2 separate regions of the Homo sapiens genome follow, and region 1 is linked to region 2. The links come from fine-mapping of genetic effects on gene expression. A gene starts in region 2. The other region holds a variant in brackets. All regions are shown on one strand. Distances are from middle to middle. Region 1 has its middle 48 kb from the start of ZNRF4. Region 2 holds the start of DPP9-AS1 (DPP9 antisense RNA 1).

Region 1 (15,882 bases), 830 kb before region 2:
GAGGTCAGGAGTTCAAGGCCAGCCTGGCCAACATGGTGAAACCCCATCTCTACTAAAAATACAAAAATTAGCCAGGTGTGGTGACGGGCGCCTGTAATCTCAGCTACTCGGGAGGCTGAGGCAGGAGAATCACTTGAACCCGGGAGGCAGAGGTTGCAGTTAGCAGAGATGGCGCCACTGCACTCCAGCCTGGGCTCCACCTCCACCTCTCAGGTTCAAGAGATTCTCCTGCTTCAGCCTCCTGAATAGCTGGGATTACAGACATGTACCACCACGTCCGGCTAATTTTTTGCATTTTTAGTAGAGACGGGGTTTCACCATGTTAGTCGGGCTGGTCTCAAACTCCTGACTTCAAATGATCCACCCACCTCGGCCGGATCCCAATCTCAAAGTGTCGGGATTACAGGCATGAGCCACCGCGCCCGGCCTGCAGGCTCCTCTTTAGCTGTCTTCCTGCCTTACAGGGTGAGACTCTGTCTCAAACAAACAAACAAACAAAAAAACCAAAGAAGGACTAGACCAGCCACTGCTGGCTGTGAAGGTGGAGGAGGGGGCCCTGAGCCAAGGGATGCGGATGTCTCTAGACGCTGGGAAAGGTGGGAATTGGATTCTCCCCTGGAGAGTAAGATCTAGTGGGATCAGGAAGAGGCACAAAGAGACAGTTCCAACCTCCACAACTTTGCATTTGTGATGCCATGTCCTTCCAATCCCAGCTGCAGCTACGCCTCCTCCAGGAAGCCTCCCTGGGTCCCACCGTCCTTGTGGCCCTGTCGTGTCCTGCAACGGAGAGCTCAGAGGGTCTGGGGACTGTCGCAGGTCCCTCCCCCTTTTCCAGGTGCACTGCTATCATGATTATACGTCACTCTAGAAAAAACTGATTACATTGCAACCTGACCTTCTCCCTGTCTGCGGGGCCCATTACCACGTCAATCAGATGGCTCAGAGAAGGAAAAATTATTTTATCTTTAACAATACTTAAAACTGCTCAGCAGGGCCATCTTGGGGACTGGGCGTTGGCAGCTGTGGGTAGGTGCTCTGGGTCTCTGCATCCTACAGGCTCCCCTTTATTTATTTATTTATTTATTTATTTATTTATTTATTTTTGAGACGGAGTCTCGCTCTGTCGCCCAGGCTGGAGTGCAGTGGCATGATGTCAGCTCACTGCAACCTCCACCTCCCAGGCTCAAGAGATTCTCCTGCTTCAGCCTCCTGAATAGCTGGGATTACAGGCATGCACCACCACGCCTGGCTAATTTTTTGCATTTTTAGTAGAGATGGGTTTTCACCATGTTGGTCGGGTTAGTCTCAAACTCCTGACTTCAAATGATCCACCCACCTTGGTCAGATCCCAATCTCAATGTGTCGGGATTACAGGCATGAGCCACCGCGCCCGGCCTGCAGGCTCCTCTTTAGCTGTCTCCCTGCCTTACAGAAAAGTCTGGAACCTTCTGATTTGCAAACTGAATTCCCACCCTCCTGGGCCACCCCATCCGCAAAGGGGGCTCGCCCTTCCGGAACCAGCCCAGATCCCTCTCTCTTGTCTCTCTCTTTGTCTCTCTGTCTTTGCCTCTGTCTCTCTCTTTGTTGGCACTGGGGAGACCCAAGAATCGAGTGCTCATGGGCTGGTGGGTATCCACAAATCATTTCCTCAGCCTGAGCACCGCGTGATGGAGGGGCCACCATCACACCCATTGTGCAGTGTGGAGACCGAGGTCCAGAGACACAAAGCCCTGTTTCTGTTTCTTTTTTTTTTTCTTTTTCCTTTTTTTTTTTTTTTTGAGATGGAGTCTCGCTCTGTTGCCCAGGCTGGAGTGCAGTGGCGCAACCTTGGCTCACTGCAAGTTCTACCTCCCAGGTTCACGCCATTTTCCTGCCTCAGCCTCCCGAGTAGCTGGGACTACAGGTGCCCGCCACCAAGCCTGGCTAATTTTTTTTTTTTTTTGTATTTTTAGTAAAGACGTGTTTTCACTGTGTTAGCCAGGATGGTCTTGATCTCCTGACCTTGTGATCCACCTGCCTCAGCCTCCCTAAGAGCTGGGATTACAGGCGTGAGCCACCGTGCCCGACCCCTCTTGCCTCAATTTTCCCATCAGGTGAATGGGAGTCAGTCTCGTCCCTTACGGGCTGTTGGGAGCTGGAGTCCTGCCCGTCACAGAAGGATTGTGAGGTAAGATACAGGACACCCAGTTCAACTTGAATTTCAAATAAACAGAAAATACTTTTTTAAGAAAAAAAAAAAAAAAGTCTGAGTATACCCCAAATATTGCATGGGCTATACTTATACTAAAAACTCACTTGTTGTTTGGCTGAAACTCAGATTGAACCCGGCATTCTGTATTTTTTTTTTTTTCTTTCAGACGGAGTCTCACTCTGTCGCCCAGGCTGGTGTGCAATGGTGCGATCTTGGCTCAATGCAACCTCCACCTCCTGGGTTTAAGCAATTCTCCTGCCTCAGCCTCCTGAGCAGCTGGGATTACAAGCACACACCACCATGCCCGGCTAATTTTTGTATTTTTAGTAAAGGCAGGGTTTCACCATGTTGGCCCGGCTGGTCTTGAACTCCTGACCTCTGACCTCAAGTGATCCACCTGCCTCAGCCTCCCAAAGTGCTGGGATTACAGGCATGAGCCACCGTGCCTGGCTGGCAACCTGTATTTTTATTGGCCACATCTGGCAACCGGAGCATGAGGCTCTGGAGAGATAGAAGGTTCTGGACATTGTGGGGCAGACTCATTTGTATCAACAGTATCAGGTTGTCCTGGCTGCTATGAGGACAATGTTGAGATTTCCCAACAGAGTGCTGGAAGATTTGTTTTTTTTTTTTTAAATTATTACTTGGCCGGGCACGGTGGCTCACGCCTGTAATCCCAGCACCTTGGGAGGCTGAGGCGGGTGGATCACAAGGTCAGGAGATTGGGACCATCCTGGCTAACACGGTGGAACCCCGTCTCTACTAAAAATACAAAAAAATTAGCCAGGCTTGGTGGCAGGCCCCTGTAGTCCCAGCTACTCGGGAGGCTGAGGTGGGGGAATGGCGTGAACCTGGGAGGCGGAGGTTGCAGTGAGCCGAGATGGCGCCACTGCACTTCAGCCTGGGCGACAGAGCGACACTCCATCTCAAAAAAAAAAATTATTACTTTATTTATTTTAATAGAGACCGGAGTCTTGCTGTGTTGCCCAGGCTGGTCTCGAACCCTGGCCTCAAGCAATCCTCCTGCCTTGGCCTTCCAAAGTGCTGGGATTCCAGGCATGAGCCACTGGGCCCAGCCTGATTTGTCTGCAATGTGGCACAGTTGCCTCTGCTGGAGCCAGGGACCGCCTCTGTCACTGGGAAATGGTGGCAACCATTACGGCTTGACCCTCTCCAGCAACGCTGGGCAGAAAGCCCATCTCATGAAGCAACAAAGAACCCAACTAGATTCAGGCCGCTGTCTCCCTGTCCCGTCCTCCCCCCTCCACCCCAGCCACCCATCACAGTCCATCCCCAAGGCCGGTGGCTCGCCCTGTCCTCAAGGTGTCAATACCTCCCCTTCTAAATTTCACCCTGGAAATCAATTAGGGTCCGGGCGAGTTGATTATAAATCAGCTATTTTCATAATTGTTATGTCTTTAATAAATCAGAACTGTGCACGTTGCATGCAGGCAAAATGGAGCTGTTCTCCTGAGGTCATCAATTACCCGGAGGGGAAGACAGGGCCGTGTCCGCATTCCCTCGTCCTCCACCCGATCCGGAGACGCTGCCGGCCGGGCCAGGGAGTTCCTGGACCCGGGCCGGGCCGTTCCATTAGGGAATTGCTTAAGCAGCGTTTTAAATAACAAAAAGGGATATCATTTAATTTTTTCGCAACGTGGAAATCAATACGCTGTCCTTCAGGCGGCCTGACGGATCGTCTTGGCGAGCTTCTCCGAGTTAATCTAATTTTTCTGGGTCTGGCTGGGACCAGCCGTCTTGCGCGAGGCCTCCTGCGTGCCGGCATCAGCCCAGCCTGGAATCCATGGTCTCAGACGGATCTTCCCACAAGTGCTGTGGATGTATTTGGCAGGCGGGGAGGCAGAAAGGTGGGCAACAAGCCATTTCTTTTATTTATTTATTTTTTTGAGATGGAGTCTTGCTCTGTCACCTAGGCTGGAGTACAGTGGCGTGATCTCGACTCGCTCACTGCAATCTCTGCTTCCCAGGTTCAAGCAATTCTCGTGCCTCAGCCTCCTGAGCAGCTGGGATTACAGGCGCCCGCCACCACGCCTGGCTAATTTTTGTGTTTTTAGTAGAGATGGGGTTTCACCATATTGGCCAGGCTGGTCTCGAACTCCTGACCTCAGGTGATCCACTTGCCTCGGCCTCCCAAAGTGCTGGGATTACAGGCATGAGCCACCATGCCTGGCCCGAGCCATTTCTTTCTTTCTTTCTTTTATAGAGATGGCTTCTTGCTATGTTGCCATATAGAGTTGGAGGCCAGGGTGGTCTCCAACTCCTAACCTCAAGTGATCCTCCTACGTCAGCCTCCCAAAGTGCTGGTATTACAAGTGTGAGCCACTGTGTCCAGCCAAGAAGTCATTTCTTTAGGGCAGTGGCCTTGACCAGGGATGATTTTGCATGCTCTGGGGGCATCTGGCAATGTCTGCGGACATTTTTGGTTGTCATGACTTGGGGGGTGCTCCTGGCATGGAGTGGGTGAAGGCCAGGGGTGCTGCTCAGCACCCTGCAGTGCCCAGGATGGTCGCAGCCCAGAGAATGATTCAGCCTCAAATGCCCACAGTGGCAAAGATAGGAAACTCTGCCTTAGGGCAATTCATGAAAGGCAGTTTGGAGAACCCTGATCTCTTCCCCCATCTTCGCTTCTGAACCCTGTGTCCTGTTTATTCCAAAGTCCAGGGGGACAAGGCCCTCTGTGACAGTGCAGAGACTCTGGTGCGAGTCCTGGGCCTATTCATCCAGTAGATATTGAGCACTTACTGTATATCAAGCACCATTCTAGGTATTGGGGATCCAGCCACCAATAAGATGGACAAAACACCTGCCCTCATGTGGTTTAACTTCTAGTCAAGGTAGAGAGTTGAGCAGGTAGGTAAACCAAAGGTGGATTCAGAAGTCAGTGAAGGAGGCCGGGTGCAGTGGCTCACACCTGTAATCCCAGCACTTTGGGAGGCCGAGGTGGGTGGATCACTTGAGGTCAGGAGTTTGAGACCAGCGTGGCCAACATGGTGAAACCCCGTCTCTATTAAAAATACAAAACTTAGCTGGGCGTGGTGGCATGCATCTGTAGTCCCAGATGCTTGGGAGGCTGAGGCACGAGAATCACCTGAACCAGGAAGGTGGAGGTTGCAGTGAGCCAAGATTGCGTCACTGCACTCCAGCCTGAGTGACAGAGACTCTGTGTCTCAAAAAAAAAAAAAAAAAAAAAAAGAAGTTAATGAAGGGGATAAAACGGGGATTGGTTGGGGTGGGGCTGTGAGGATAGTGAAGTCTGCTCCAGCTGCCATCACTAAACAAAGATGCTCCTTAACTTACAATGGGGTCATTACCCAATAAACCCATCAAAAGTTGAAAATATCATAAGTCAAAATACGTTTTAGATTTACAATATTTTCAGCTTATAATGGGTTTACCTGGAAGCCACTTCATTGTCTTTTTTTTTTTTTGAGACAGAGTCTTGCTCTTGTCACCCAGGCGGGAGTACAATGGCACGATCTCAACTCACTACAACCTCCACCTCCTGGGTTCAAGCAATTCTCCTGCCTCAGCCTCCGGAGCAGCTGAGATTACAGGTGCGTGCCACCATGCCTGGCTAATTTTTGTATTTTTAGTAGAGACGGGGTTTCACCATGTTGGCCAGGCTGGTCTCGAACTCCTGACCTCATGATCTGCCCGCCTTGGCCTCCCAAAGTGCTGGGATTATAGGCGTGAGCCACCATGCCCAGCCTCCACCTCACTGCTACTTGACTTAGAGTAGCATACTAAATGTATATTGCTTTTGTCACCCTCAAAAAATAAAAAAATTATGTTGAACTACTGTAAATCAGGGACTGTCTGTACCACAGGCTGCGTGGCTTAAACAAAAGATCATTTTCTCACAGTTCTGGAGGCAGGGAAGTCCCAGAGCAAAGCGCCAGCCAATTTAGCTCCTGGTGAGGGCTCTCTTCCTGACTTGCAGATGGCCACCTTCTTGCTGTGTTCTCATATGGCAGAAACAGAGCAAACTCTCTGGTGTCTCTTCTTGTAAGGGCACTAATCCCATCATGAGCCTTCCTTCAATTACCATCCCATAGTTGGGGAGGGGTGTTAGGGTTTTAATTTATGAATTTGGATGGGGGGGACACAAACATTTAGTCCATATCAAGGGAGCTTCTCTGAGGAAGTGGGATTGGAACTGAGGCCGGTGGCTTAAAAGAGTCTTGACAAATGTTACTATGGAGCTTCTGGTCATAAATAATAATGATGGTTATACTAACTTGCATTCAGAATACTCTTTGAGCCAGACCCAAGAGATTGTCTCTTTGATTTTCATTTATCAGATGAGAAAACTGAGATTCTGGGATGAGCAAGCAAAGAGAAAGGAGCTCAATGTCTCACCCTGCAGGACATGAGGAACTGGAACAACTTTGCCTGGAAAGGGCATGCAGAATACCCACCCAGCTCTGCCCCAATTTACTGGGCAAAGTAGGCCAGGTGAGGAGGAAGGGAAGGGTTCTCTGGACAAAGGAGGAGGCTGTGTGGGTAAAGTCCTGAAGGTGGGGAGAGGCTGGTGTGCAGGAGCAAATCTCTGCCTTTCTTTTCCAGCTAATTTGGTGGAATTGAATTCTTAGACCA[T/C]GTATTATCTCCTCTGGGAATGCTTCTTGGAGGGCTATGGGCAGAGGAGGGACAGGATCTGACTCAGGTGCTCACAGGTGCCCCTGGTGGCTGCTGAGAGGAGGATAGACTGTGGGGGGTGAAGTCGGGAGCTGGGCACCAGGGAAGAGGGGACTGTGTGGTTCCAGGCAAGTGACGATGAGATGTCAGACCAGGGTGAAGGCAGAGGAAGAGAGAGGAGTGGCCAGATTCTGGATAGGTTTTGAAGGCAGACAGGACAGGATTTGAGGGATTAGATATCAGGTAGGTGATAAAAGATGAGTAAAGAATATAGGGCCAGGTCACATATGGAAGCCAAAAGACTGTGGGTCTGCAACGCTGGGCTTCTCAGACTTCCCATTTATAAAATGGGGTCAATACCACCTGCCTCCCAGGTTTACAACCAACAACTGTTATGGGCCCAGCCTTGTTAAGCCCATGACTGTGGGAGTTTCTATGCTGAGGTGTCCCTGACTTCCTAGTGATCATAAGCAATTTCAAGCTTCATCTACTACAAACCAAGGCAGGGATGGTGTTTAGCTGGAAGATAGACGGTGTGTGTGTGTGAGCAGCCTCTTCTGGTGAAAGGTGACATTGCAACCTTGCTCTATTAGACATGGCAAATAACAGACAAGAGGAGGGAAAAGGTGAAATTTGGAAGTTCCTGAGATAAAGAATAACTTATTTGATTTTCTGGACTTTGGAGGGATATGGGGAAGCTTGGAGCTGGGGAAATGCTATGTAATAGGCAGAAGGGAAGAGAAGTTGAAGGCAGAAATTCTAAGATTCACATGGAGGACGCCATGTGAAGATTAAAGTTATGCCACCTCAAGCCAAGGAACTAGCAGAAGCCAGCAGAAAAACACGGAATGGATCCTTCCCTAGAGCCTTTGGAGGGAGCATGGCCCTGCTTACATGTAGGTCTTGAATTTCTGGCCTATAGAACTATGAGGAAATAGGCCAAGCATGGTGGCTCACGCCTGTAATCCCAGCACTTTGGGAAGCCGAGTGGGTGAATCACGAGGTCAGGAGTTCAAGACCAGCCTGGCCAGTATGGTGAAACTCCATCTCTACTAAAAATACAAAAACAAAAAATTAGCTGGGCGTGGTGGTGGGCACCTGTATTCCCAGCTACTCAGGAGGCTGAGTCAGGAGAATCGCTTGAACCCGGGAGGTGGAGGTTGCAGTGAGCCGAGATTGTGCCACTGCACTCCAGCCTGGGCAACAGAGCACGACTTCATCTCAAACAAACAACAAAAACCCCAAAACTATGAGGAAATACATTTCTGTTGTTTGAGCCACTCACTTCGTGGTATTTTGTTTTGGTAGCCCCAGCAAAATCATACACCTGTCTTTTTTTTTTTTTTTTTTTTTGTATTAATTTGAGACAGGGTCTCACTCTGTTGCCCAGGCTGGGGTGTAGTGGTGTGATTATGGCTCACTGCAGCCTCAACCTCCTGGGTTCAGGTGATCCTCCCACCTCAGCTTCCCAAGTATCTAGAACTACAGGTATGCATCATGCCCAGCTATTTTTAAAAATTATTTTTGTAAAGATGGAGTCTCCCTATGTTGCCCAGGATGGTTTCAAACCCCTGGCTTCCAGTGATCCTCCTGTCCCAGCCTCCCAAAGTGCTGGGATTAAAGGTGTAAATCACTGCACCCCACCAATAGCTGCCGTTTGAAGTGAGGTGTGGCTTCATGACTTGCTTTGGCCAATAAAATGTGAGTAGAAGTCATGTTAATCCCCTTCAGTAAAAGCCTTTAAAATCCAGTATCCCATTCTTCATATTCTTTCCCCTCTCTTAGAGACCACTGATGTTTCCTCCATCTGTCTCAATGCCTGAGTGAGGCAGACACAGAGGCCCCCTGCCAACCTGTATTGGGCATATAGTGTGGATGACAAATAAACCTTGGTTGTTTTAGAGCCACTAAGATTTAGGAGCTTGTTCCAGTTACTGTGGTTGTATAAATTACCTGAAAAATTAGTGGCTTAAAATAATAATTTATTACCTCTCATGGTTTTATGGGACAGGAATTTGGGAGCAGCTTAGCTGGGCAATTCTGACTCCGAAGTTCTTACAAGGTTGCAGTCAAGATGTTGACTGGGGCTGTATCATCTGAAGGCTTGACTGGGGCTGGAAGAGCTGCTTCCAAGCTCATCCACATGGCTGTGGGTAGGAGTTCCTTTCTCTCTTTCTCCCTTTCTCTCTTTCTTTCTTTCTCTTTCTTTCTCCTTCCCTTTCTCTCTCCCTTTCTCTCCCTCTCCCTCTTTCTCTCTTTCTTTCTCTTTCTTTCTCCCTTTCTCTCGCTCTCTCCCTCTTTCTCTCTCTCTCTCCCTCTTTCTCTCTTCCTTTCTTACTTTCTTTCTTTCTCTCTCTCTCTCTTTCTTTCTTTCCTCTTTCTCAATATGTTACCGAGGCTGGAGTGCAGTGTCACCATCTTGGCTCACTGCAACCTCCACCTCCCAGGTTCAAGCAATTCTCCTGCCTCAGCCTCTGGAGTACCTGGGATTACAGGTGCTTGCCACCACAGCTGGCTAATTTTTGTATTTTTAGTAGAGACAGGGTTTCACCATGTTGGCCAGGCTGGTCTTGAACTTCTGGCCTCAAGTGATCCATCTGCCTTGGCCTCCTAAAGTGCTAGGATTACAGGTGTGAGCCACTACACCCAGCCTGTCCTTCACTTTTGTATGCAGAATTTTCCATAGCACTGCTTGAGTGTTCTTCCAACATGGCTGCTGGCTCATTCCTAGAGGGGTTGATCCAAGGAGGAAGTTGAAGTGCCTTTTATATAAGGCTCAGCCTTAGAAGTCACTCACTGTCACTTTTATATGCCTCACGAGTCAGCCCCGATTCAGTGGAGGAGGAGACCCCACAAGGTCATGAATACCAGGAGGCAAAGGCTCATTGGGGCCATCTTGGAGGCTGGCTCCAAGAGGTTCTTTGTTACTGTAGCAGTCCATCCAGACTGATGAAGACACCATTGCATTGCCTGGCAGTAAGACTTTAGGAGACTCACTTTTCCTTTATGAGCCCTAGTTTCCACATCTGTGAAAGAAGGAGGTGCATTTGTCAGCAATGTGGGAGACCCTGCAGGGGAAGGGGGAGTTCCAGGAAGTAAACTGAGTCCACTGCCTTCATGACAAACCTGGAGATGCATTCATGGGAGAAAAAAGCCTCCTTCCACCTTCCCTCTCATTGCCAGAATTGAAGATTTGGACCCAGAAATCCTGGCCAGGAGGACTAGAGGTGCTGTAGCATGGGGGGCTACGTTTTGGCTCTACCACCAAACAGCTGTGTGATGTTTAGCAGGAGGCTGGATCTGCCTGAGCCTCAGTTTCTTATTCTGTAAAATGGAGCAGTACCTACTTCACACAGGAGGTGAAGATTAGAGGTTATCACAGTCCAGAGGCCCTAGCACAGCTGATAGCAAATGCGCACTGATATTGCCTGTTGACTAAAATGGCTACCAGAGGACTAATCCCCGAAAACTACCCACTGTGGGGGCTTCTGATTCACCGAGACTTAGAGCTGAAAGACATTCTAAGAATCCTGGATTCCAATCCTCTCATTTTCTAGGTGGGGAAACTTACCCCTGGAAAAGGGCAGAGAATTCCTGGCTTGGGTAGTAGCCAGCTTCCTGACCCCCTTTTCAGGAACTGCACTGCTGTGCTACCTGTGGGCATGGAACAGCCAGTCAGGTGAGGGCTCTTGTTTGAGTGAAAACCTGGAGGTGGAAAACTTGCAGAATGTTGGGGAAGAGGCTGGGAGTAGATCTCTCAGGATAGAATGAACCTTGATTCTTATTTTTACTTACTTATTTATTTTTGAGACTGGGTCTCACTCTGTTGCCCAGGCTGGTGTGCAGTGGTGCAGTCTTGTCTCACTGCAACCTCCACTTCCCGGCCTCAAGCAATCCTCCCACCTCAGCCTCCCAAGTAGCTGGGGCTACAGGCGTGTGCCACCACGCTCAGCTAATATTAAACAAAGTTGTTTTTATAGAGACGAGGTCTCACTCTATTGCCCAGGCTGATCTTGAACTCCTGGGCTCAAGGAATCCTCCTGTCATGGCCTCCCACAGTGCTGGGATTACAGGTATGAGCCACCAAGCCCTGCTGAACCTTGAGTGCAATGGTGCGATCTCTGCTCACTGCAACCTCTGCCTCCTGGGTTAAAGTGATTCTCCTGCCTCAGCCTCCCAAGTGACTGGGATTACAGACACCTGCCACCATGCCCAGCTAATTTTTATTATTTATTTAATTAATTTTTTTATTTTTTTTTTTTGAGACAAAGTCTTGCTCTGTCACCCAGGCTGGAGTGTAGTGGTGTGATCTCGGCTCATTGCAACCTCCGTCTCCCGGGTTCAAGTGATTCTCCTGCCTCAGCCTCCTGAGTAGCTGGGATGACAAGCAAGCACCCTCACACCCAGCTAATTTTTGTATTTTTAGTAGAGATGGGGTTTTGCCATGTTGGCTAGGCTGGTCTTGAACTTTTGACCTCAGGTGATCTACCTGCCTTGGCCTCCCAAAGTGCTGGGATTACAGGCATGAGGCACCGCGTACTGCTGAACCTTGATTCTTGAAGACCACTTGAAAATGCTGGATCAAACCATTCCTGAAGTCCACCTCATTTCTGAATTAAATGTAAACCTGACCTACTTTGCCTCCTGACCTGCCGAGGCTGGAGGACATTCGTAAAATGCACACACTGTGGGCAGAAAGATGGAGAGCTGGCAGAATGGGCTTCTCCCCTGGTGCTGCCATGACCTCACTGTTGCTTGTTGGATTGAACCATTTGGACATCTTTGTCAGCTGGAAGCTATGGAAAGCACTGGAGCACAGAAGTGATGTCTTTAAAGCCCGCAGTGATTACAGTTTTCTTTCCCTGGCTGACTTGGAGAAGGCTTCAGCCTGAGCCGGCCGGCTGGGATCCCCCAATCTCCCTGTGTCCCCACCCCCCAGCCCCATTGCTGGGCTGTCATCGCTGCGGGAGAGCCTGGGAACAGGAGACGAGAATGACCCGTGATTGTCGCAGAGGCCTCTGCTCTAATTTCCCCGAATGGGTTTTGAGCGGCTAATGCGGCCCCCGCTGGGCAGGAGATGGAGCGCCTGGCAGGGCCTCCCAGGCTAGAGCATTTGAGGCCCACCCACTGTAGCCGGGGCCTTAACCCGCTCACTCTCACTGCTGGGCCACTGGGAAACTTCCAGTCCTGGGGTCTCTGAGGGGAGCAAGGGGGGCAAGACCCTCCCACCTTCTGGATCTGGCTGAGCCAGCGTGGGTCAGTGCAGCTGAGGCTACCGGGTGGGCTTTAGGATTTAGAGGTAGCCGAGCTGGGAGGGATTCAGCCTCCTCCAGGGGCGGTAAAAGAATCTGACACTCAGAGTCAGGCAGTGTCTACAGTCTCAGCCGAGAGTCAGGGCTCAGGCTGGGATTGGGGCTCAGCCTGGGGTTGGGGCTCTGTTGATATTAGGGCTCAGGCTGGGATTGGGGCTCAGCCTGGGGTTGGGGCTCTGTCGATATTAGGGCTCGGGCTGGGATTGGGTCTCAGCCTGGGGTTGGGGCTCTGTCGATATTAGGGCTCGGGCTGGGATTGGGTCTCAGCCTGGGGTTGGGGCTCTGTCGATATTAGGGCTCGGGCTGGGATTGGGGCTCAGCCTGGGGTTGGGGCTCTGTCGATATTAGGGCTCGGGCTGGGATTGGGGCTCAGCCTGGGGTTGGGGCTCTGTCGATATTAGGGCTCGGGCTGGGATTGGGGCTCAGCCTGGGGTTGGGGCTCTGTCGATATTAGGGCTCGGGCTGGGATTGGGGCTCAGCCTGGGGTTGGGGCTCTGTCGATATTAGGGCTCGGGCTGGGATTGGGGCTCAGCCTGGGGTTGGGGCTCTGTCGATATTAGGGCTCGGGCTGGGATTGGGGCTCAGCCTGGGGTTGGGGCTCTGTCGATATTAGGGCTCAGGCCAGGGTCAGCAGGGCTCAGGCAGGGTTAGTCCAAGTCTGGAGCTCAGTCTGCGGTTGGGGCTGACCCTGGTTGACCCTGGCTCAACCCAGGGTCTGAGATTCAGTCCAAGCTCAGCCAGGATTTGGGTTCAGTCCATGGTTAGGATCAGGTCAGGTCCGGGACTCGGCTGCAGTCAGCCCAGGGCTGGGGCTGCACCTGGTTTAGACTTATCTGAAAGTGGGCACTGGGTCGGTGTTTGTTGAGTGAATAAGCAACTCCACTAGTGATTTCTACAAGGTCTGCAGGGATGGAGCCCTAATGCTGGAATTTCAGATACAGTGATGGCCACTACGGTTCCTGTACCCTTAACTCCTTCAGGGACGGATGTGGCCATGCCTTGGATGGGGAAACCAAGGGCACGTGGCTTCTCTCCCGGAGCCCCCACCCCAACCCTGGCAGGTGGGAGATGGTGGAGACAACGATAGGGGTGGGAGGGGCAGACCTAAATGGTTTTGGTTGGAGCTCTTCATGTGTGGGGCAGAAGCCTGACAAGTGTGGGGATGTGGGGACTTGATTCTGCTGAGGATGAGGCAGCCATGCTGGGGTTCTGGGCAGCAGTGAGTTGAGCCACCTGGGACCAGGCTGGGACTTGCTCAAGAAGGAGGAGCCATGGCCAGGGCTACGTCGGGGGTGAGGATCATCTCATCTTCCCGGAGAGCATCAAAGGTCTCCTTTTGAGGTTCTCTCCACATGAGGTGGTGGGAGCTACAGTCGCAGAGACTCAGGAGGAAGAGGTTTATGGAGACCCTCCATGGCAACCATCTCCCTTGGGGGTCAAAGCCCAAGTTCTCTCCAAGGCCCACAGGCCCTGCACGCCTGTCCCTGCCCTGACCTCCCTCCTCCTTCTCTCCCATTGCTCACTCCACTCCAGCCACACAGGCCTCTTCGCTGTTCCTCCAACACCCCAGGCGCAGTCCTGCCCCAGGGCCTTTGCACGGGCTGTGCCTTCTGCCTGGAGTGCTCTTGCTCCAGGTATCCACCTGGCCAGCTCCATCTCAACTTTTGATTCTCTCACCTCCAATATCATCTCCTCCAGGAAGCCCTCCTGATTTCCTAAGCTTAAATAACACTTCTGAGTTTCCTGACTTCATCACCTACTTTCGTGATTTTGTGGGTTTTTTTGTTTTTTTTTTTTTTGAGGCGGAGTCTCACTCTGTTACCCAGGCTGGAGTGCTGTGGTACGATCTTGGCTCACTGCAACCTCTGCCTCCTGGATTCAAGCTATTCTCCTGCCTCAGTCTCCCAAGTAGTTGGGATTACAGGTGCCCGCCACCATGTCCGGCTAATTTTTGTATTTTTAGTAGAGACAAGGTTTCACCATGTTGGCCAGGCTGGTCTCGAACTCTTGACCTTAGGTGATCCTCCTGCCTCGGCCTCCCAAAGTGCTGGGATTACAAGTGTGAGCCACCACGCCTGGCCCATTTCTTCCTTTTTTTTATTTCTTCTGGGACCTGGGCAGTTGGAAACAGCCCGGTTCTCACTTGCATGTGAAAGGCCGGCCTCTGGCGATTCCCTCTGTGTGGTGGCCCCTCAAAGAGCCATGTGAGATGAGATGACTGGCGAGAGTTACCAAAGGGCCGTGATGGGTGCTGGGTACATGATGGTGAAAATGACAGATGTGTTTGCTCTGGTAACAGACAGGCCTAGGGTGCTGACTGTGTGCTAGGGACACAGCAGAGACGAGATGGAGGCAGCCCCACCACTACAGAGCTCGCGGTGACCGGGCAGTGACAGTGGGGCTGTCATGGGGGATGTACAGCCCAGGGGGGCTCCAAGGTGGAGGTGCCTTCCAGGTTGAGACCTGGAGGGAGAGGACAGTGTAGTCAGGTGGAGCATGGGGAAGGGTGTTCTGGGCAGAGGGAACGGCAGTGCTGCATGGATGCTAGAGCTCTGACTGTAGCTCAGTGTCCCTCCTGCGAGCCCAGCCATCACCCTGGGGTTCCCCCCTGAACATCCTTCAGGACTTCCACCCTCAGTGGCCACCCTGGCCTCGGCCTCTCCCCTCAGCTGGCTCTTTCTCTTAGGTCCCCATCTCAGCGGTGGTCCCACTGGGCCCCCATCCCTGAACTGGAGACCTGGACACTGGCTTCTGTCCAGCTTCTCCCCTCTCCATCACAGCCTGTCTGTCCCCACATCCTGCCTGCTCTACCTCCAGGCCCTCCCTCCCATCTGTCCCCTCCCAGTTCTGCCCCAATGCTAGTCCCCCACTCCCACCCCAGATCTCCTCCCTGGTCTCCCAGCCTCTCTCCTGTACCCCCCGATTGCCTGAGGGAGTCACACACAGTTTCACCTCCAGGCTGCCACCTCTGCTTAAAACATTCCCCCACATCTCTTCTCTTGGCTCCTTCTTCTAACTCTTCCTTCCGCTGTCTTTGCAGAGCCGCCTCCTCCAGGAAGCCTTCTATGATCCCTCTTGCCCTGTGCACCTCCCAGACAGCTCTATCACCCTATTTTTCAGCCTGTTTGATCCTGGCTCCATCTTCTTCCACAACAGCAAGGGTTTGCTTATTTTATTTTATTTATTTATTTATTGGAGACAGAGTCTCGCTCTGTCACCCAGGGTGGAGTGCAATGGCGCAACCTTGGCTCACTGCAACCTCCACCTCCCATGTTCAAGCAATTCTACTCAGCCTCCTGAGTAGCTGGGATTACAGGTGTGTGCCAGCACACCCTACTAATTTTTATATTTTCAGTAGAGATGGGGTTTCGCCATGTTGGCCAGGCTAGTCTCAAACTCCTGACCTCAAGTGATCCGCCTGCCTCCACCTCCCAAAGTGCTGGGATTACAGGTGTGAGCCACCGTGCCCAGCTAATTTTTGTATTTTTGTATTTATTTATTTTTGAGGCAGAGTCTTGCTCTGTCACCCAGGCTGGAGTGCAGTGGCGCGATCTCAGCTCACTGCAACCTCTGCCTCCCAGGTTCAAGAGATTCTCCTGCCTCAACCTCTCGAGTAGCTGGGACTACAGGCGCCCGCCACCACGCCTGGCTAATTTTTGTATTTTTGGTAGAGACAGCATTTCACTATGTTGGCCAGGCTGTTCTCAAACTCCTAACCTTGTG
Region 2 (10,760 bases):
ACGCACCGTCCACGGGGGCCACGCGGTCTGAGGGCCCCTTCCTTGCCGGCCCCATGTGCATGAGCGCTCCTCACGGGCTCCAGGGCGGCCCCGGGACAGCGGCTGATGCTGGCTGTAGGACCCGACGCCTGTTTCTCTCTCTCTCTCTGCCCCCATCTGTCTGCTGTGTCCCTCAGGTGGCCATCGCGGGTGCCCCGGTCACCGTCTGGATGGCCTACGACACAGGGTACACTGAGCGCTACATGGACGTCCCTGAGAACAACCAGCACGGCTATGAGGCGGGTTCCGTGGCCCTGCACGTGGAGAAGCTGCCCAATGAGTAAGGCCACTGCCCTGCCCTGCGCTCCTCCCCGGGGCTTCTCCTGCACCCCGGCACCAGCTGTCTCTATGAGGGTGCCCTCCTGCCCCAGCTGGCCCTGCCCAGGGAGCCTCAGGCCATGTGGAGCCTCCCCGCTGTGCTCCTGTGGTGGCGTCTGCCTGCATGTGCCTCACAGTCCCCTCCAGCCCACCCTCCCTCCTCACTGCACCTTGCAGGAAGGGGCACCCAGGGATGCTTGTCTGGGGAAGGAGGCTCACAGCCCTGCCCTGGGAAAGATGAGGGAATTCGAGTCACTGCTTTTCACAGGCAAGCCTCCCCCACTCCCCTGCATCCTGCTGGAGGCCCCATCACAGCCTCTGTCTTGTGCTTCAGGACATAGATGTCCACAGGGCCAGGGACCAGCTCAGATGTCCCATTTTATGCTTTTGACATGGGTCTTATTCTCTGATGGAGAGAAAACAGTGTTCCCATTTTCTGGCACGTCTCCAGAAAATGTTCCCCGGAATCCCATGCAGTCACCTAGGGGGTTAAAAATCTGCCTGGGCATGGGCCGGGCGCGGTGGCTCACTCCTGTAATCCCAGCACTCTGGGAGGCTGAGGCGGGCGGATCGTGAGGTCAGGAGATTGAGACCATCCTGGCTAACAAGATGAAACCCCGTCTCTACTAAAAATACAAAAAATTAGCCGGGTGTGGTGGCGGGTGCCTGTAGTCCCAGCTATATGGGAGGCTGAGGCAGGAGAATGGCGTGAACCCGGGAGGCGGAGCTTGCAGTGAGCCGAGATCGTGCGCCACTGCACTACAGTCTGGGCGACAGAGCCAGACTCCAATTCAAAAAAAAAAAAAAAAAAAAAAGTCTGCCTGGGCACTTTGGGAGGCCAAGGCAGGAGGATTGCTTAAGGTAGGAGTTCGAGACCAGCCTGGCCAACATGGTGAAACCCCGTCTCTACAAAAAAATACAAAAAATAAGCTGGGCATGGTGGTGCATGCCTGTAATGCCAGCTACTTGGAAGGCTGAGGCAGGAGAATCGCTTGAACCCAGGAGGTGGAGTTGGTAGTGAGCGAACATCGTGCCACTGCACTCTAGCCTGGGCAACAGAGAGAAACTGTCTCAAAACAATAATAATAATAATAGGCCAGGAACGGTGGCTTCAGGAGTTCAAGACCAGCCTAGCCAACACGGTGAAACCCCATGTCTACTAAAAATATAAAAATTAGCCAGGTGTGGTGACACACACCTGTAATCCCGGCTACTCAAGGAGGCCGAGGCAGGAGAATTGCTTGAACCTGGAAGGGTGAGGTCGCAGTGAGCTGAGATCGCACCACTGCACTCCAGCCTGGGCAACAGAGCGAGACTCTGTCTCAAAAAATAATAATTTATTGTGGTGAAATTCACAGAACCTAACAGTCACCTTAAAGCAGCCCTCGGTGCATTTGCAGTGGTTCCAGAACCTTTCCAGCACTCCAGCGTCAAACCCTGTTCCCATTCCTTAGCAGTCACTCCCTGTCCCGGGGCAGCCACCGATCTGTGCTCTGTCTCAATGGGTTTATAAGTTCCGTTAATTTGGATGAATGTAAACTGGAATTTCAACGGCGACGTGTGGCCACTGGCTCCCGTATCGGACAGGAAGGGCTAGGGCAGCCGATTCTGGTGAGGCTGCGTGTTGGCCTCACCAGTAGCCCATGCCACACTCCAGACCACAGACAGCAGCAGACCTAGGTGGGTTTTTGTTTTGTTTTGTTGAGAGAGTCTCACTCTGTGGTCCCGGCTGGAGTGCAGTGGCTTAATCTCAGCTCACTGCAACCTCCACCTCCCAGGTTAAAGCAATTCTCGTGCCTCAGCCTCCTCAGTAGCTGGAATTACAGGCATGCACTACCACACCCAGCTAATTTTTGTATCTTTAATAGAGATGGGGTTTCACCATGTTGCCCAGGCTGGTCTTGAACTCCTGGCCTCAAGTGATCCACCTGCCTTGGCCTCCCAAAGTGCTGGGATTACAGGTGTAAGCCACCATGCTCAGCATTTTTTTTTTTTTTTTTTAATCATAGCTCACTGCACCCTCCCAGGGTTTAGGTGATCCTCCTGCCTCAGGCTCAGCTGGGACCACAGGTGTGCACCACCACGCCTGGCTAACTTTTAAATATTTTTGTAGAGATGAGGTTTTGCCATGTTGCCCAGGCTGGTCTCAAACAACTGGACTCAATCCACCCAGCTTGGCCTCCCAAAGTACTGGGATTACAGGCATGAGGCACTGCACCCGGCCTGGGTTTTTGTTTTTGTTTTTCTAATTTAGAGATGGGGTCTTGCTCTGTCACCCAGGCTGGAGTGCAGTGGTATGATCATAGCTCACTGTAGCCTCCACCTCCTGGGCTCAAGTGATCCTCCCGCCTCAGCCTGCACAGTAGCTGGACTTACAGGCGCACCACTACACTCAGCTGATCTTTTTTTTTTTTTTTTTTTTGAGATGCTGTCTCCATCTGTCGCCCAGGCTGGAGTGAGTGGCGCGATCTCAGCGCACTGCAACCTCTGCCTCTGAGGCTCAAGCAGTTCTCCTGCCTCAGCCTCCCAAGTAGCTGCGATTTCAGGCACCTGCCACCATGCCTGGCTAATTTTTTTTAAATATATTTTTAGTAGAGACAGGGTTTCACCATGTTGGCCAGGCTGGTCTCAAACTCCTGACCTTGTGATCTGCTCCCCTCCTACCCCACGGACAATCCCTGGCCTCAGACCCTTCCCCATCTGTTTTCCAGGCCCAACCGCTTGCTTATCCTCCACGGCTTCCTGGACGAAAACGTGCACTTTTTCCACACAAACTTCCTCGTCTCCCAACTGATCCGAGCAGGGAAACCTTACCAGCTCCAGGTGGGTGGCTGTTGGGGGCTTCGGCCCCTCCGCGAGCCGACAGATCCCTGGGAGTGGGGGGTGGGACGAGGCGGGGTGGCTTCCCACTGTGACCAGGGGCTCCCTGGGGGATCTGGGGCTCCCAGCCCCCCACCCCACAGCCCTGTGTCCCCGCCCTCCCAGCTCCCAGGGCCATTGATGTATCAGTCCTGTCTTGACAGCTCAGGGTTCCGCCTGCCTTCGGTGCTGGAAGCACGGGATCGGGGGCTGCCACACCCACCCCTGCTCCGGGCCTAATGGAGGGAGGAACCCTTACCGAAATTGCCCCGCAGACGGGCTTTATTTGAAACTGAGAAATTGCGTAGAAGAAACCGCTGAGTGCTGAAGGCCCTAGCAGGCTCCTTCCTAAGGCGCTGGGGCCAAGCATTCCCTGAGGAGGCAGCAGTGAAGGGTGCTAGAGTGAGTGGAGCCAGCCAGGCTTGGGGGACCGAGCGGGAGGAGAGTGGGGGAGTGGGTGGAGCCTTGGCAGCAACGTGGGGCTCAGTCTAGGTGGGCGGGGCTTCTGCGCTAAGGGGTGGGCATGGTTATGGGCGGGGCCTCAATGGCGAGGAGGGTGGGACTTCTGCAGAGGGACGGGGCTTCAGTGTTACGGTGGGTGGGGCTTCCGCAGTAAATGGTTGGCCTCGGTGTGGGGAAGGGCCTCGGTAGTGGAGAGGGTGGGGCTCGGTGTGGGAGCAGCGCCTCAGCGGTGAGGAGGGTGGGGCTTCTGCTGTAGAGGAGGGGGGGCCCTCAGTAAGCAGGGTGGAGCTTCTGCTATAGAGGGGTGGGGCCTCAGCGGGGGCGGGGCTTCGGCTGGATTTTCAACTGAGGGTGGTGGGAGGTGACTCGGGCTTGTGAGCAGAGCATAGAGTTGGGCGGCTTGCCATTTGACCCACATTTCTCTGGCTGCTTTGTGGATGGCCTGTGGGGGACAGTGGGACGTGGTCCATAGTTGTACCGGCGGGAGATTCAGGAGGTATCTTGGAGGCAAGAGGGCCAGGTTTTATTACCTGTGGACTGCAGACAATTTCTGCTTCCTGGGCGCCTCGGCATGCTCTGTCCTGTGGGGAGCGTCCTGTTGCCTTTCAACAGAGCAGGGAAATGGGGCCGCAGAGCAGGAGGGAGGCAGAGCCACCTTGTGCGGTGATGAGCTGATCTCTTGGCGGTGCCCCCCACCGACACCCCACATCCCAAGCAGCCCAGGGAGTGATATCAGGCAGGGCTGGAATGGAACTTCAGATGTCTCTTCCCAGCCTGAGACCCGAGCCCACTGCCTTCCCAGGGGCCAGGTAGCTGGGACAGCATTCACCCTTGCACCTCGTTTCTCCGTCTTTGAAACGGTCATGATAACTCGGCCTCCTTGAAGGCTGCTGGGGCCAAACAAGGTCTTCAGAAAAGCATTCAGGCCGGGCGTGGTGGCTCACGCCTGTAACCCCAGCACTTTGGGAGGCTGAGGCGGGTGGATCACTTGAGGCCAGGAGTTTGAGACCAGCCTGGCTAACATGGCAAAGCTCCGTCTCTACTAAAAATACAAAAATTAGCCGAGTGTGGTGGCACACGCCTGTAGTCCCAGCTACTCGGGAGGCTGAGGCAGGAGAATCGCTTGAACCTGGGAGGCGGAGGTTCCAGTGAACCGAGATTGTGCCACTGCACTCCAGCCTGGGCGGCAGAGGGAGACTCCGTCTCAAAAGAAAAAAAAAAAAGAAAAGAAAGAAAAAAGAAAAGCATTCAGCACACAGGGTGGGCCCAGGGTCCTGTCTCACTGCCTCCCCACAGGAAGTAGAACGTGAGATGAGATAGGCTGTGGGGTGGGAACATGGCATTGTGTGGGACAGATAGAGTGCACCTCTCCTTCTGTTTCAAAGACCCCAAAACATCTGGGCCAGGCAGCTGGCGGCCCCAGGCCCTCTTTATACACAAATCACATTTGTCACATGCCGGGCCTTGGGCTTGGTCTGGAAGCTCATTGGGGAGCCAGACAGACCCTCTATCTGCCCTCTTAGCCAAGAGGAAAAAGTAACCAGGCAGCTGGGACCCAGAGTGGCATAAAGGCATGGGCACAACATGTGCATATGGCTGGTGTCAAGGGCAGCAGAGTCTGCCCCAGGGAGTGCCACTGCCCGGGCTGGGGAAGGAGTGGGCCCTTGAAGTGCCTGGGGCAGCAGGACCTGGAAGCTGGTCTTGATGTCAGACTGGCAAGTCCTTGCAGAGGTCTAGGCTGGGGACGGTGTCATCAAACTCGTGATTCATCCAGGGATGGATTAAAGAAGGCAAGAGTAGAGGAGGGGAAACCAGTGGGTGGCTTGGTGCATTCCCAGGGTGATGGGCAACAGTGGGGACCAGGAGCCTGGAGAGGAGGGGATGATTCAGAAACCCATCTCACTGGCAGGAGGTGGCGTAGATGGGCCACCTGCCCCTGCTGCCGGCCAGCCCCGGGGTTCTTTGTGGAGAACGTAGGGTTATTTTCATGCCTTGGTCCTACCAACCCCTAGGGGGCAGTGGGGAGCTATAGGGGTTGTCCGTCAGTGCCTCGAGAGCCCTCCTTCGTGGCCAGAGGCAGGACCTGCATCCCCGTGTGGATCCACCCCCAGGCCTGGCGTTGGCTGGTCCAGGTCTCAGGAGCCTGGGGAGTTCCATGTTACTGCCTGCCTCTTGGCTTGATCCCCCTTGGGCGCTAAGAGGACCCAGAAAATGCTTCACAAATCCTCACAGGCAGCTGTCCTAAGGCCCAGAGCTAGTCACATGCCTTTTGGTAAAGTGGAAATGGCTCGAGACCAGGGCACCAGATGTCCCTGAGGCTTGAAGCCTCAGCCACCTCCACAGAGATGAGTTGGTCGCCCGTCAGCCGGTTTGGGGGAAAGAGGCAAACGGTTTCTTCCTAAATCTTTCCTCTGTGCAAGCGCGTGCACACCGCAAGGCGTTTTGTAAACTTTGTCTTACCAAATCCTCCCAAAGACTGTGAGGTCCGGATTCACCCCATTTTTTAGAGAGGCCCAGAGTTACACTGCAAGTCAACAGCCGAGGTGGGATTCAAACCCAGATCACTGGGCCTCAGAGCACCTGCGCCTTCCCGGATGCCCTGAGCCAGAATAAGGGAGGAGCCTAGGACACGGGGGTGGTCCGGCCACGCCCCCCAGCCCTGCCTCCTGTCTCCCCGCAGATCTACCCCAACGAGAGACACAGTATTCGCTGCCCCGAGTCGGGCGAGCACTATGAAGTCACGTTGCTGCACTTTCTACAGGAATACCTCTGAGCCTGCCCACCGGGAGCCGCCACATCACAGCACAAGTGGCTGCAGCCTCCGCGGGGAACCAGGCGGGAGGGACTGAGTGGCCCGCGGGCCCCAGTGAGGCACTTTGTCCCGCCCAGCGCTGGCCAGCCCCGAGGAGCCGCTGCCTTCACCGCCCCGACGCCTTTTATCCTTTTTTAAACGCTCTTGGGTTTTATGTCCGCTGCTTCTTGGTTGCCGAGACAGAGAGATGGTGGTCTCGGGCCAGCCCCTCCTCTCCCCGCCTTCTGGGAGGAGGAGGTCACACGCTGATGGGCACTGGAGAGGCCAGAAGAGACTCAGAGGAGCGGGCTGCCTTCCGCCTGGGGCTCCCTGTGACCTCTCAGTCCCCTGGCCCGGCCAGCCACCGTCCCCAGCACCCAAGCATGCAATTGCCTGTCCCCCCCGGCCAGCCTCCCCAACTTGATGTTTGTGTTTTGTTTGGGGGGATATTTTTCATAATTATTTAAAAGACAGGCCGGGCGCGGTGGCTCACGTCTGTAATCCCAGCACTTTGGGAGGCTGAGGCGGGCGGATCACCTGAGGTTGGGAGTTCAAGACCAGCCTGGCCAACATGGGGAAACCCCGTCTCTACTAAAAATACAAAAAATTAGCCGGGTGTGGTGGCGCGTGCCTATAATCCCAGCTACTCGGGAGGCTGAGGCAGGAGAATCGCTTGAACCCGGGAGGTGGAGGTTGCGGTGAGCCAAGATCGCACCATTGCACTCCAGCCTGGGCAACAAGAGCGAAACTCTGTCTCAAAATAAATAAAAAATAAAAGACAGAAAGCAAGGGGTGCCTAAATCTAGACTTGGGGTCCACACCGGGCAGCGGGGTTGCAACCCAGCACCTGGTAGGCTCCATTTCTTCCCAAGCCCGAGCAGAGGGTCATGCGGGCCCCACAGGAGAAGCGGCCAGGGCCCGCGGGGGGCACCACCTGTGGACAGCCCTCCTGTCCCCAAGCTTTCAGGCAGGCACTGAAACGCACCGAACTTCCACGCTCTGCTGGTCAGTGGCGGCTGTCCCCTCCCCAGCCCAGCCGCCCAGCCACATGTGTCTGCCTGACCCGTACACACCAGGGGTTCCGGGGTTGGGAGCTGAACCATCCCCACCTCAGGGTTATATTTCCCTCTCCCCTTCCCTCCCCGCCAAGAGCTCTGCCAGGGGCGGGCAAAAAAAAAAGTAAAAAGAAAAGAAAAAAAAAAAAAAGAAACAAACCACCTCTACATATTATGGAAAGAAAATATTTTTGTCGATTCTTATTCTTTTATAATTATGCGTGGAAGAAGTAGACACATTAAACGATTCCAGTTGGAAACATGTCACCTGCCTGAGGTTCCTTCTAAGTCCTGGGGCTCCTGAGTGGGAGGGGCTTCCGGGGGGCAACAGACAAGACATGGCAGAAGGGCACTGCCATCTGTGGGGACTCCTGGGGTGCTGGGGCTGCCTGGGCACCATGCCCTGATCAGACTGACCCACAGAGGATGGCCCCAGCCACCTGATGAGGGTAGTCCTGTCCTCGCTGGTCTAGGAAGGTCTACCGGTCTCCAGGGACTCAGCTCTGGCTGTCGTGTGTGGCCTGGACTGGCCCCCCGGGCTCCCCAGAGCCTCAGCACAACCCAAATTACAGCATCCTCCATGCTGGATCCTCCCCCAGCCAACACCTCCTTTTCTACCTGAGACTCTGCACCCTGAGGACCACGACAGGCCAAGGCCCTCCTCACATCGTCCCAGCAGCCAAGACACCCAGCAGACCCTGTTTGCAACGTGCGGGGCATGTGGGCTCCATTTCTAACAGCAGGGATGGACTGCCCTGCTTATCCACTTGCTCCATCCTTTGGAAATTTCCACTTTTTTTAAAAAAAAAAAAAGGGGGGGGGGGGCTTAAAAAAACATACGAGGCCGGGCGTGGTGGCTCACACCTGTAATCCCAGCACTTTTGGATGCCAAGATGGGTGGATTGCATCAGTCCAGGAGTTGGAGACCAGCCTGGGCAACATGGTGTGAAACCCTGGCTCTACAAAAACAAAAATTAGCTGGGTGTAGTGGCGCATGCCTGCAGTCCCAGCTACTCAGGAGGTTGAGGCTGGAGGATCACTTTAGTCTCGGGAGGTCGAGGCTGCAGTGAGCTGTGATCATGCCACTGCACTCCAGCCTGGGTGACAGAGTAAGACCCTAGTCTCCAAAACAACAACAACAACATCAAAAAGGAAGTATAAAAAAGAAAAAAATTCCAGTACAAAATGATATTTAGGGGACTCAGGCACAGTGGCCTCCACCTGTAATCGCAGCTAATCAGGAGGCCAAGGCGAGAGGTTGGCTTGAGCCCAGGCATTTGAGATCAGCCTCAAAAAAAAAAAGGCCATGTGTGGTGGCTCACGCCTGTAATCGCAATACTTTGGGAGGCTGAGGCCAGCAGATCACTTGAACCCAGGAGTTTGAGACCAGCCTGGGCGATATGGTGAAACCCCATCTCGACTAAAAATTGAAGAATTAGCCCAGCGCAATGGTGCACGCCTGTAGTCCCAGCTACTCAGGAGGCTGCAGTGGGAGGATCACTTGAGCCCTGGAGGAGGAGGAGGTTGCAGTGAGCTGAGGAGGTTTCTCCAGCCTGGGCAACAGAGTGAGACCCTGTCTCACACAGACACACACACACACAAAAAGGAGGCCAGGCACAGTGGCTCACACCTATAATGCCAGCACTTTGGGAGGCCAAGGTGGGTGAATCATTTGAGCACAGGAGTTTGAGACTAGCCACAGCAACATGGCATAAACCCCATCACTACAAAAAAATAATAATAATAATAGCTGGGTGAGTGTTGCATGCCTTGTAATCCCAGCTACTTGGGAGGCTGAGTGGGAGGATCATTTGAGCCCAGGAGGTTAAGGCTGTAGGGAGCTGAAACTACCACTGCATTTCAGCCTGGGCGACAGAGCAAGACCTTGTCTCAAATTTAAAAAAAAAAATAAATAAATAATCTAATATTTGTGTGATCGAATCTTGTCCTTTAGGACTGACAGATTTCATATCATGATTAGTGGGATCCGTGGAATAATTTGTTGTTTGCTCCTCTGTCACCCAGGCAGGAATGCAGTGGTATAATCACAGCTTACTGCAACCTCGACCTCCTGGGCTCAAGTGATCCTCCCACCTTGGCCTCCCAAAGTGTTGAGATTACAAGAGCCACTGTGTCCAGCCTTGTTTTCTTTTCTTTTTCTTTCTTTCCTTTTTTTTTTTTTTTTTTTGGACACAGGGTTTCGCTCTGTCACCCAGGCTGGAGTGCAGTGGTGTAATCTCAGCTCACTGCAACCTCTGCTTCCATGGCTCAAGTCATCCTCTGGCCTCAGCCTCCCAAGTAAGTGGGACTACAGGCACAAGCCATCATGCCCAGCTAATGTTTTTGTATTTTTTATAGGGACGGTGTCTTGCCATCTTGCCCAGGCAGTTTTTAAACTCCTGAGCTCAAAGTGATCTGCCTCCCAAAGTACTGGGGCCAGCCTTGTTTTTTCTTTTAATCCTTTTAGTGTGATGATTTGTGGTGGGTGGGTGAAACTTGGGGCCGAAACCTTTCTGGAAAGAACACACACACGCATGCACACGCATACGCACAACCTGCCTGGGTTCCGTAGCAGACTCCCAACAGCTCACAACTGAAATTCCTTGTTAGCCGCAGAGCTCGGCCATGCATCGAATCCTTCATGGTGACAGGCTGAAAGTTGAACACCGTGGTAAGGTAATGGGGACTCCATCAGTGGAACCGTGCTGTGTCACTCACCTAAGGAACAGGGCTGCTCTGTGCTTGTCCAGTTTATGGAGACAGTGTCTCATGGGTCCAGAACAGACAGCTGCATGGAGGAAGAGATTTGTTTGTTTATTTCTTTATTTATTAAGACGGAGTCTTGCTCTGGGACCCAGGCTGGAGTGCAGTGGCATGATCTCAGCTCACCGTAACCTATGCCTCCTGGGTTCAAAAGATTCTCCTGCCCCAGCCTCCCAGGTAGCTGGGATTACAGGCGCCCACCACCATGTCCGGCTATCTTTAAAAAATAATCTTAAAATATCTTTAAATATATATATATATAAGTATATATATGAATATATGAATATATATAAGTATATATGTGAATATATGAATATATATAAGTATATATATGAATATATGAATATATATAAGTATATATATGAATATATGAATATAAGTATATATATGAATATATGAATATAAGTATATATATGAATATATGAATATAAGTATATATATATGAATATATTAATATATATATTCATATATAT

Evidence for each region.
Region 1: its variant is fine-mapped to the expression of DPP9-AS1 in monocytes after R848 (Quach 2016, PIP 0.95).

What each region holds. Positions count from the first base shown.
Region 1 is chr19:5,495,328-5,511,209 of GRCh38, reverse strand. No RefSeq gene overlaps it. Among named protein-coding and RNA genes, the nearest start is that of ZNRF4, 48 kb to the right of the region's middle. RefSeq lists a cis regulatory region at 3,051 and enhancers at 2,967-3,136, 11,455-12,287. The variant T/C (reference allele first, on the strand shown) is at 6,809.
Region 2 is chr19:4,672,255-4,683,014 of GRCh38, reverse strand. DPP9-AS1 (DPP9 antisense RNA 1) reads right to left here and starts at 3,733. Exons shown (of 3, transcript NR_164163.1): 1 at 3,476-3,733; 2 at 1-214. DPP9 (dipeptidyl peptidase 9) reads left to right here. Exons shown (of 22, transcript NM_139159.5): 20 at 177-319; 21 at 3,069-3,180; 22 at 6,359-7,788. The coding sequence ends at 6,451. RefSeq lists enhancers at 2,925-3,426, 6,084-7,044.